Linked DNA regions of Homo sapiens. The protein of the gene in region 2 interacts with the protein of the main gene of each other region in a pairwise test. Each region holds a gene or a part of one and is shown on either strand. Other genes may lie near its edges. The genes, in order: TPTEP2-CSNK1E, ZNF618 and RIIAD1.

Region 1 (3,750 bases), on a different chromosome or scaffold from region 2:
AATTTTTAACTGTCAGTGCTATTGTGTTTACAGCATTCAAGTTCTCAGAGTTCAAAGGTTATCCATTAACATGTAGAATGAGGCTACACTTAAAGGCTCAACCTGGTTGCACTTGTTCATAGTTTCTTTGTTGTGTAGCAAGGCTCATAGTCATTTGTTTTCATAAAGTTAAATGAAGTTTCTTGTTTATGAAGTGTTTTTGGACTGTGTTTTAGAATGTGACAATAAGATTAAAAAATATATTTTAAAGATAGGTATTCATCTTTTGTCAGAAAAGGACTCCTAATACTAAAAGTGATCAATATCAGTGGACTTGAGTGAAAAAAAATTCACCCAATTTAGTTTTTTAGTGCTGGCCTAAGAATCTACCGGCACTGCTAATTAATTGTGAGTAATTGATTGGCTTCCTTTTTAAAAAAGACTAACCAGACCATATGGGGGGTTAGTAGTTATATATAAAATGACAGCAAAACATGACACTTGGCAAATTCTTCCCCTTTGCTGAGCTGTCTTCTCAAATTCCTTTTCCTATTTATTAAGATTGCATTGCTCACCAGCTCCGGATCGTTTCTGTAGTGCGTTCTTTCTTTTGATTTAGGAAATAGATATTTTAAATGCTTTTCTTGATGTGTTTTAAAGTTTTTTCATTTTGGATATGCCGAAGGCCAGTAAAAAAACAAATATTTGGCTATTTTGTTGGTAGCGACTTGCATAGATCCATTTCACATTTGCATTAGTTTGCATTTTGGGGTAGAAAAATTGTGGATATGTTTGTTATGTCTGTGGTTCCTCGAGGCTTACTTAAAATGGGGAAATATCACAGGCCTTAGGAATCAGGATTTTTTTTGTCCTTTTTTTCAGTAAGAAAAAAAAAACAGTTGGGAAACGATTTAAATGAGTTGTGCGTAGGGAGGAGGGGAAAGGGTAGCGGTTTTTTGTTTTTTTTTGTCCCCGGTTTCCTCCAAATGGATTTCTATCAAAACCAAGTAGATTCTTGGAACCTAGTCTAAGTTTAGAAATCTCAAGTTAGAATAGCGCAAGCCCAGTCCTTTCAGAAAAAAAAAAATCAGAACAATTAAATAGCTTTCTGAAGATACTCATTTAAAAACTTTATCTTCTCGACCTTCCTCACGCTTGAAGAAAATCTGAGGTGTTTTTCGCGCACAGCTGCCTTCTAACCCGCGAGCAACGGCGTTAAGGTTTTGTTTGTAATTCGGGGTGACCCAGGAGTTCGGGCCGCGGGCCCCTCCCCTCGCCCGGGCACACCTTGCAGAGGAGGGGGCGGCGGGGACGGGACCCGGGTCTGCGCCTGCGCACACCCTCGCGGCCCCCCCCGCCCCCCCCGCCGGGTACCTGTCACGGCTACCGCCGCGGCGCTCGCCCGCCACGTTAAATCGGATGGCGGGAGTAGGGGTATGGGGCGGGGGGCGCGGGGAGGGTGGCACGGCGCGTGCGTGCGCGGGAGTCGCCGAGCGATAACTGGGAGTGCGCGCGCTCGCCGCTCGCTCGCGTCCCGGAGGCGGAGTCTGTGGCGGGGGGCGGAGCGGGGGCGGGCCTATGCTAGTCACGTGGGCGCGGGGGCGGGGTGGGGCGGGGCGGGGCGTCTCCGAGCGGCGGGCCGAGGGAGGGCGCAGCAGCTGCTCCCTGAACACTTTCTGACCCAACAGTCCCCCAGCGCCGGACGCGCCGCGCCCTGGCGGCTCTAGGGACCCCCCCCGCGCCTGCACTTAGCCCCGCGCCCGAGGTGAGCCCGGCCCCTAAATCCTCCGGGCGGGGGTGGGGGTGCGGGACGCTCCTTTTTTGTTGGGGGTCTTGGAGGCGCGAAGGCACTAGGCGCCTCGGCAGATGGCTGCACCCCTCGCTTGCGGCTCCCCGTGTCTTTTGGGGGGCCGGGTGCGGGCGCGGAATCCGGGAGGTGTCCGCACAAAAGGCCGAGAAAACTGCGCGAGGCCTCCCTCCCTCCGCCCTCCCCGCCCCCTCCCCTCCGCGCCCGCTCCTCCTCTTTCAAACCCGGCCGGCCCGAGTGGAGTCAGCTCAGTCCCGGCAGCCGCCGCGCGAGGAAATGGCCGAGGGGCCGGAGCCACAGGTAAAGGGGGGCGCCCCCCGCCCGCGCCAGCCGGGGCGCCCGCCTGGTCCTGCGGAGGCTCCCGCGCCGCCCCCGAGGCGCCCGGCTCTCGTTGTCTTGTCCCCCCCCAGGATGACCTCAGTTCCCCGTCTCAGCTTTCTAGCTGCTCTTTCTAGGGCGCCCCCTCCCCAGCCGGCTCCTGCGCTTCCGCTGGCGGGAAGGTGCGGGCGATCCCGGGCTGCATCCGCTCTTGGCCGTCACACTCACGCCGCACGATTCAGAAGGGCTTGGGGTGCGGGGTTCCCTGAATCTCCGCCGGGAGCGGGGGTCCGGGGGTCTGCGGGGGTGGGCGGTGGGGGGCTGTTCCGAAAAGTTGGGTCGCCCCGCGGGGCGGGTCTCCCAATTTGCCCAGTCGGCCCTTGGGGCGCGGGCGGAGGGGGGACGTTGGCGTAGGGTCCCCCGCGATACCCCGGGAAGGGCCGGGGGAAGTTGGAAATGGCCAAAACAATGCGTCGGGACAGGCTTCCCCCGTAAACAATGGCCGGGACGGTCCACACGGGCCAGGCGGAGGGCGCGTCTAAGGGACCGCGGGAGGGGCTGGGCCTCTCCGCGGACCCCGAGGTGCGCCGGGTGACTCCCTCGGGTGCCCAAAAATCTGTCCCCGGGAGTCCTGGGGCGCCTGCTTATCCCTGAGCAGGGATGCACGGGGCTGCGTTTCCTGGATGTGTGCGATAAGGTGGCTTTTTTTTCCCTCCTCTAATTTTAAAGATTTTTCTTAAGTCTTAATGTTCTATAAACACTTAAAGAATATCTTTACAACTCAATTGTAGTGGAACACCCAAAGGCAGCTGGAAGCAGAACTGGGAACTCTAAAGGGCAGGAAGGATTGAAATGCTAGCCCAAAAGTGCTGCTGCTTTTTTTTTTTTTCTTTTCTTTTTTTAAAGGGAAGTTTCTGCCAGGAGGTGCCAAGTGGTGAAACCGCTCAGTTTCAGGCACAGCCCTCTTGTCTCTCGATTTGGCCCCGACTGCGAGCCGGACGGGATGGTGGAGGGGCGGAGGGCGCTGCTGGGGGCCTGGGAGGCTGGATTTAGGGCTGCCTGGGCGGTACCGCCCGAGGGGCAAGACCCGACAGCGGGGCGCGCGCCGCAACGTAAGTCCCGGGGATTTGAGAAGACGTTCAGGGCCTGGGTTGGAATCCACATTTTGGGATTCTGGGTAGGGCCACCGAAGACGGGAAGGCGCATTCTTGGGCGGATGGGGTGAGCAGGCGGGGAGTTTTCCGCCAGGTTTAGTTACAGGAGCTAGAAAAGGCCACTTCTGGGACCCTGGCATCTGGGCCACCCTGAGAGCCCCAGAAACTTTTTTTTCTTTTTCTTTCCCCCCCACCCCCCAGAAAAGGATAGTCATTTCAGGTTTAAGGCTTTGGTGTATTGTTCCACTTCGAAATTCCTTGAGCCTCAGTTTATCTTCCTGAATCAGCCTATGGTGCTTGCAGCGGAGAAAGTAAATGGCGGTTGCAGTGGTCCACTGGCCAGTTTGGGGGTCCTGTATAATTGGCCACTGTGTGTGTCAGGCCTCTGAGCCCAGGCCAGGCCATTGCTCACACAAAGCTTGTTTGGTGGTCTCTTCACACGGACGTGTATGAAATTTGGTGCCGTGACCCCAACCCTTAAGAAGGTTGTTT
Region 2 (3,750 bases):
CTTAATTTCATGTCTCCCATATAGGGCTAAACTCCCAATTTAACTTATTAGGGAAAGGAGGTGTCTTCTACACAGTGCCTCCGTTTCCTAAAATTTTAAAAATAACTTTTTTGAGGATTGTAGGGAAAACATTTCTGTAACCTTTCCTGTCTCATATTGCTCCAGTTCTTTAAACATTACAAAAAAGAACATTTGATTTTTGAAGGTGGGGGCAGAGAGAAGATACCTGGTTACTCTTAATTTCCAATGCTTTTATTTTTGAAAAGTACCCTTGCAGTTTTCTTTTGGGGAGGGGCAAAGAAGGATTTCTGTTCACCTTGCATCTCATAGAAGAGCAATTCTTAACATTTTTATTCCAAAAATCAACCAGTTGTGGGAGATGTAGGATGGATCCAGTAATCCCTCCTTGTCTCTATAATAGGGCAGGTCCTTCATACTTTCAATTTTTAAAAAATCGGATTTTTTAGGAGAATAGGGAAGAGAATAGAAAAAAAAATCCCTTTTAAACTTTCCCAAGTCACAAGGAGGCAGTTGCTCAAGTTAAAAAAAAAAAAACAACAATAACAACAACAAAAAAACTGGCTATTTTGGGGTGTTGGAAAGAAATATCCTGGTTCACGTTTTATTTCACATGCAAGTTTCTCAAATTTTCCTTCTCTAAATCAACCTAACTGGGGGATATGGGGGTGGGGGGCGCTAATATCCCTTAACCTTTAACCCCTCTTGTCTTACTGTAGGACCAGTTTTTCAAACTTTTATTTAGAAATACATATATATATTTTAATTTGGCAAGGATAGGCAGAAACAGCCGCTTCACTGGCATTTCACATAAAAGCGGCTCCTCAAGTATTTATTTTAAAAATCAGTCTGGCTGGGGGGCTAGAGTCCCCTTAACCACTCTTGTCGGACATGGGGCCAGTCCTTCAAACTTTTATTTTATTACATTAGTTTTTTTGGGAGGAGTGGCAGGGCAATAGAATATTCCCAATAAGCCTTCCAGTCTTCCAGCAAGCCAGCTCTTGAAAACTTTTATTTCAAAAATCAATCTGGTTTTTTTTTGGCGGGGGGGTACAGCGGGGTACAGAGTTCCCATTAACCTCTTGCGTTCCGCCGAGAGCCGGCTCCCTGAACTTTTTTTCCAGCGTGAAAATGACATTTCCGAGGGGCTGGGGGACTGGGGGAGGGCAGAAGGGAGCCGGGGAGCGGGCGCGGGGGGCGCGGGGAGGGCAGGGCGCGGCGCGGGAAAGTTTGGGGGGGCGGGTGTGCCGCGGCACTGGGGCTGGCGGACGGGAGGGCGGGCGCGCCCCTGGACCGGCCGGCTTTGTGTGCCACGCGGAGGCCGGCAGCGCGGAGGCCGAGGCCGAGGCCCCGAGCTCGCGGGCCGCACGGCGAGGCCGGCCCGGGGGCGGGCAGGGCGGCGGGGGGCGGCGGCGGCCCCGCGAGGGGCGGCTCGGCGGCAGCGGCTGCCGCGGCGCGGCCGGTGCGGGCCGGGGGTGGGGGCGAGGGCCGGCGCCCCCCCCGCGCGCCCCCAGCGCCCCCGCCCCCCCGGCCTGAGCGGGGCGGGCGGAGGAGGGAGCGGCGGCGGCGGCGGCGGCGGCGGCGGCGGCATTGTGCGCGCACCAGCAGCCCGGCCCGGGAGGAGCAGGACGCGCCGGGGCCGCCTCCTCCCGCACGGACCCATGAACCAGCCGGGCGGCGCGGCGGCTCCGCAGGTACGACGGGGGGCCGGGGGCATGCACCGCGCGGGGGACCCCGGGGGGCCGGGGCCCGGGGCGCTGCGCCACTTCATTGCAAGATTTGCAAAATGCAAAGTGCCTGGGCACGTTTGCGGGCTTTTTGTGGGCGCAATCGGGAGGGTCGGGGTCCGGAGAGCACCCCCCCGGGCGCTGCGGGGTGCGAGGAGGGTGGGGGTGACGAGGGGGTCTTTTGGGGCCCCCACCCAGCGCCCCCTCCGGCCCCGGGCTCGGACCGGAGCCCAGAAAACAAAGCGGCGAGAGAACAGAGCAGCCATTTCAGTTTGGACAATTCACATTTTGCAAAAATGCAACCCCTTCCAGCTCTGCCCCCTCCCCCCCAAATTTGCAATTTTCCCCTGACCCTCTCTGCGCTCGGGGTCCCCGATGACCCCCCGGGAGGTCTTTCCCCCCAGGTCCCCCATTTTTGCAACAATCTTTTTTTTTAGGCCATATTTTCCTTTCTCAATTTTTTTTTTCTAATTTTTCTTCAAACGGTAGTTTTTTCCCATTAAAACGACGCCACCTAGAGGATACTATTTTGTAAATAAAAAAGAAATTAAAATTGAAAAGAAATATTTTTTATTTCTTATTTTTTCAAAAGTTTGCACTACCAGGCAGTGGAGGGGTAAGAGATTCTTTTTTTTTCTTTTTTCGGGTGAAAATTTTCACTTTGATCTTTCCAGAAGCATGGAGACAATTTTTATTTCTGAAGCCAAATCCAGATAATATGTAAATGAAAATTAAGCTGGAATTTGAATGAATTTAGTTCTTGGAGGGGAGAAAGCAAAAAACCTCCTAAAAGCAAAGTCAGTTTGGGTACCCAACTCATTTTAGTTTGAGAAAAAAACTAATTGGAATAAAGAAAGGAGGGAAATTGTTGAGTTTAGGGAAAACTGAGAGAATTGGCTTTATGAAGCAATTAGAAATTGTACTTCATTGTAATTTGGAACTTGTTTAGCTCAGCGGGCAAAAAAAGACTAATTTCTCTATATGGCAATATTTAAAGTTTTTCTATTTCCACGAACGAAGGATTTAAAAGAGAAAATAGAACCTAAAATGTTGGCTTTGGACACACCCAAAAATTGTAGTTTTTTTTTTTTAATTTTGCATTTACATTTTACTGCATTTAAATCCTAAGATTCTAAAGAAAACAGAAACTAGAAAAGTTACAGTGAAATCCTTTCTTTCTTTTTTTCTGTATTTGTTGGGTTTTGTGTGTGTGTGTGTTTTTTTTGTTTTGATGGAATAATTAAGACTGTTTTCTGATTTTGTTTCCTGAAAGGTCTAGGCATTTCTTTTTTGTTGTTGTTTTATCCAGAAAATGTCAGGAACCTTTTTTGAGCAATATTAAGTGGAAAAAATGTAAATTCATACATTATACAAATTGAGTAGCCCACAGATTTGTAGGAGAGACCGCCATTAAAATAAGATATGCATAATTAACATTATTATGAAAAAACTAACAGTGGATTCACAGAAGCTCATTTTTTATGACATGCAACTGAATCAATTGATGAAGACAAGGATTGAGGAATCCTTGGTAAGGAAGAAAATTTTCCCTTTTCTGTCTTGTTCACCCTTCCAATTTGAAAAATTTATTACTTAAAAAAAATTTAGATTGGTTTCAGGCCTCTTTGATTGTGATGTGGGGTTGGTAGTTTATCAATATTTGTTATTTTTCAAAAACCTGATTACTTTCAAAGGGGGAAAAATCCATTAGCCTTGATCATTTTGGGGGGTTTGTGACCAAAAAAAAAAAATGCACAAATTTTACTGACTTAACAAGAAAAAGATAAAAGAGGGATGGGCAAAAAGGAGATGAAAATTCTGATTCTTATCCATCTTCCTTGGTAGAACACTTACTTTGCTGAAGAAATGTGATATAACACCAACTCAGCTGGTTTTAGCAGCAACAAAATAAAGGAAAAATAATCAAAATACAAACAAAAGCCAAACCCAAGGTTTGCCTTTGGAATATGAAAGCATATATGCAAACAATATTTCATGTGGAGGT
Region 3 (3,042 bases), on a different chromosome or scaffold from region 2:
TCCCTTTGATTGGTACCGGGATGAACCAGAATCAGCTTCTGTCCCTGCTGGCCACCTCACATGGTCCTTCCTATGAGAAAAGAAGAAGGGAGAAGTGAGGGCAGAGTCCTGAGCACCGTGCCTGTCCTTGTCTGTTCTGCAGATATCTGCTGTTGATACATTCCAAGCCAAAAGAAGCTCTGAAGGGTTCTTTCTGGGAAGCAAACTCCCCACTTGGGTTTTTTAGATCCTAATGATTTATGGCCATTCAGCCACAATTCTCCAGCCTATATTGGTAAATACAGCGTACCAAACTCTTAACACCTTGAGTTTTGGACCTGAAAAATGGAAAGAGTAGGAATCTGACTTATTTTAAGGTACACAGAAACCTCAGGTTTTGTGCTGCAGATATGATAGATAGCCAGGTATGAAATTGTAGAAAGTATTTTTTTTTTTTTTGAGACGGAGTCTCGCTCTGTCGCTTAGGCTGGAGTGCAGTGGTGCGATCTCAGCTCACTGCAACCTCCGCCTCCCGTATTCACGCCATTCTCCTGCCTCAGCCTCCTGAGTAGCTAGGACTATAGGCACCCGCCACCACGCCCGGCTAATTATTTTGCATTTTTTTTTTTTTAGTAGAGACGGGGTTTCACTGCGTTAGCCAGGATGGTCTTGATCTCCTGACCTCATGATCCACCTGCCTGGGCCTCCCAAAGTGCTGGGATTACAGGCATGAGCCACCGCACCTCGCCTTTTTTTTTTTTTTTTTTTTGGAGACGAAGTCTCCCACTGTCATCTGGGCTGGAGTGCAGTGGCGCAATATCGGCTCACTGCAGCCTCCACCTCCTGAGTTCAAGCTATTCTCCTGCCTCCACCTCCCAAGTAGCTGGGATTACAGGTGCCTGCCACCAGGCCCGGCTAATTTTTTGTATTTTTAGTAGAGATGGGGTTTCACTATGTTGGCCAGGCTGGTCTCAAACTCCTGTCCTCGTGATCTGCCTGCCTCGGCCTCCCAAAGTGCTGGGATTACAAATACAGCAGTAATCATGTCCTTCCTTGGCTGGAAAAATCTTCAGTAGTTCCACAACGTTGCTTTTTTGGGTTTGTTTTTAAAAATTCTATTGAAATATACTGAAAAGTGACATATCCTAAGCTGGATGAACTGTCAGAGGGTGAAAATACACATGGTACTATTGTTCAGATGAAGAAATAGAACCTTACCAACACCTCACATCCTTTGTGCCCCTCCCAGTCACTCCCCTTAAAACAGTAGCCAGTATCCTGACTTCTACTAGCACGGATTTATTGTGCGCTTTTGTATTTTATATGAATGGAATTTTACACTATGTGCTCTTTTGTGCCTGTTTCCTTTTGCTCAGTCGTATCTTGTAGATCCTCCATTCTCACTGCTGTATAATATTCCAGCATGTGTTATGCCATGTTTTGTCTATTTCCATTGTCTTTCAGATTGAGTATAAATGTCCCTCCCCAGCATTCAAGGCTCTCCGTAATAGAACCTCTTCTGTTTCCCACTACTCCCTGCATGCGTCCCTCACTCAAGCCAGACCACATTTCTGCTCATTCTGCTGACCCTATGGAGCTCAGGCACAGATGCCTCTTGAGTGCTCTTTTGGACTCAAGATAGAAAGGTGTCTACAACCCACTTCCTACTCTCAAGGAAGTCATAGTCTATAGAACACAAACTGTTTCTCTTTCTGGGCCTTTGCTCTTGCTGTTTCCCTGGATCTGGAATGTTTTTGTCCCTCAACCCTCATCCTGCCTACTACAATCCCATGTGTACTTCAAGGGTCCTCTCAAATGCCAGCTGCTCTGTGAAGATTGTTGGGGTCCCCCTCTCAGTAACCTCTCTCCCCACTCTGATCTCCCAGAGCACTATTTAATACTCCTCTTTAGCACTTGTCAGAGGTTCCTTGGCCTTTTGGACATTTGGAAACTAACCTCTTCCTTTTTACTTACCTGTAAATTATTTGAGGTAGGGCTATATTTTATTTTATTTTGAAAAAAGCAGTCACTCATATCTAGTGCAATTACTTGCACATAATTTGTGCCCAATAATTATCAAAATGAATTGAAGGAGAAGGGGGGCAAAATTCTTGAAGGTTAGGAAGGAGGGGCTTCTTGGGGAGTTGGGAGGCCTTGGCCAAGAGAACATATTATAGAGGGCACTGACCTTGGAGTCACAAGACCTGGGCCCTCTTTACTTCATTTACCAAGTTTATGAACTTGGGCAAATCATTAATCTTTTGAAGGCTTGGTTTCTTTGGATGTAAAATGGGGGCATAATAATGGTTGTTTCACAGGGTTGTTGTAAAGTGAGACAATATTTGTGAACATACTTTATGAACCATAAAACTCTATGCAATGTAAGGCATTTTCAACTCTCTAGTGGCATTGGCCCTGCAGGTGTTACCACAGTGTCTCCTTGCTGGACTGAGGGGCCAATAACCATCTGCGGTCCATCTTTTAGCTCTGTTTATTGTATCTCCCTCTGCCCCTTGAATTCATGGTTAAGCTTACTCAGGACATTGTGGGGCTGCATATCTCCCACCATTCGTGGGCCGGCCGGCATGTTCTTCATCTTTGCCTCTTGCCCCTGGCTTGAGATCTGGTTCAGTGAAAATGATCGTTGAGGCCGGGTGCCGTGGCTCACGCCTGTAATCCCAGCACTTTGGGAGGCCGAAGTAGGAGGATCGCTTGAGCCTGGGAGTTAGAAACCAGCCTGGGCCACATAGTAAGACTCTGCCGCTACAAAAAAAAATTAGCCATCGCACATGCCTGTAGTCCCAGCTAGTCGAGAGGCTGGAGATGGGAGGATCTCTTGAGCCAGGGAGGTTGATCGCGCCACTGTACTCCAGGCTGGGTGACAGAGCAAGACGCTGTCTCAAATAAATAAATAAATGCACACATAAACAAGATTGTTGACGGAATGACAAGCCCCACTTGGCTGCAGCACAGCTCTTTCTCGACGTAAGCAATATCCTAGTGTATTGCCATTTAGGATGCTTCACTCCTTGCCTTAGATACGGAGTTGAAGGAAAATCATGA

What was found.
Region 1: the proteins of ZNF618 (region 2) and TPTEP2-CSNK1E interact in a two-hybrid assay, tested with the Homo sapiens proteins (one large-scale study listed by BioGRID).
Region 3: the proteins of ZNF618 (region 2) and RIIAD1 interact in a two-hybrid assay, tested with the Homo sapiens proteins (one large-scale study listed by BioGRID).

The regions. Positions count from the first base shown.
Region 1 is NC_000022.11:38,396,774-38,400,523, reverse strand, and holds the start of TPTEP2-CSNK1E (casein kinase I), read left to right. Parts: upstream 1-1,608; 5' UTR 1,609-2,086; intron 2,087-3,750.
Region 2 is NC_000009.12:113,874,702-113,878,451, forward strand, and holds the start of ZNF618 (zinc finger protein 618), read left to right. Parts: upstream 1-1,607; 5' UTR 1,608-1,679; coding exon 1,680-1,712; intron 1,713-3,750. UniProt on the Homo sapiens protein: Regulates UHRF2 function as a specific 5-hydroxymethylcytosine (5hmC) reader by regulating its chromatin localization.
Region 3 is NC_000001.11:151,724,380-151,727,421, forward strand, and holds part of RIIAD1 (RIIa domain-containing protein 1), read left to right. Parts: intron 1-3,042.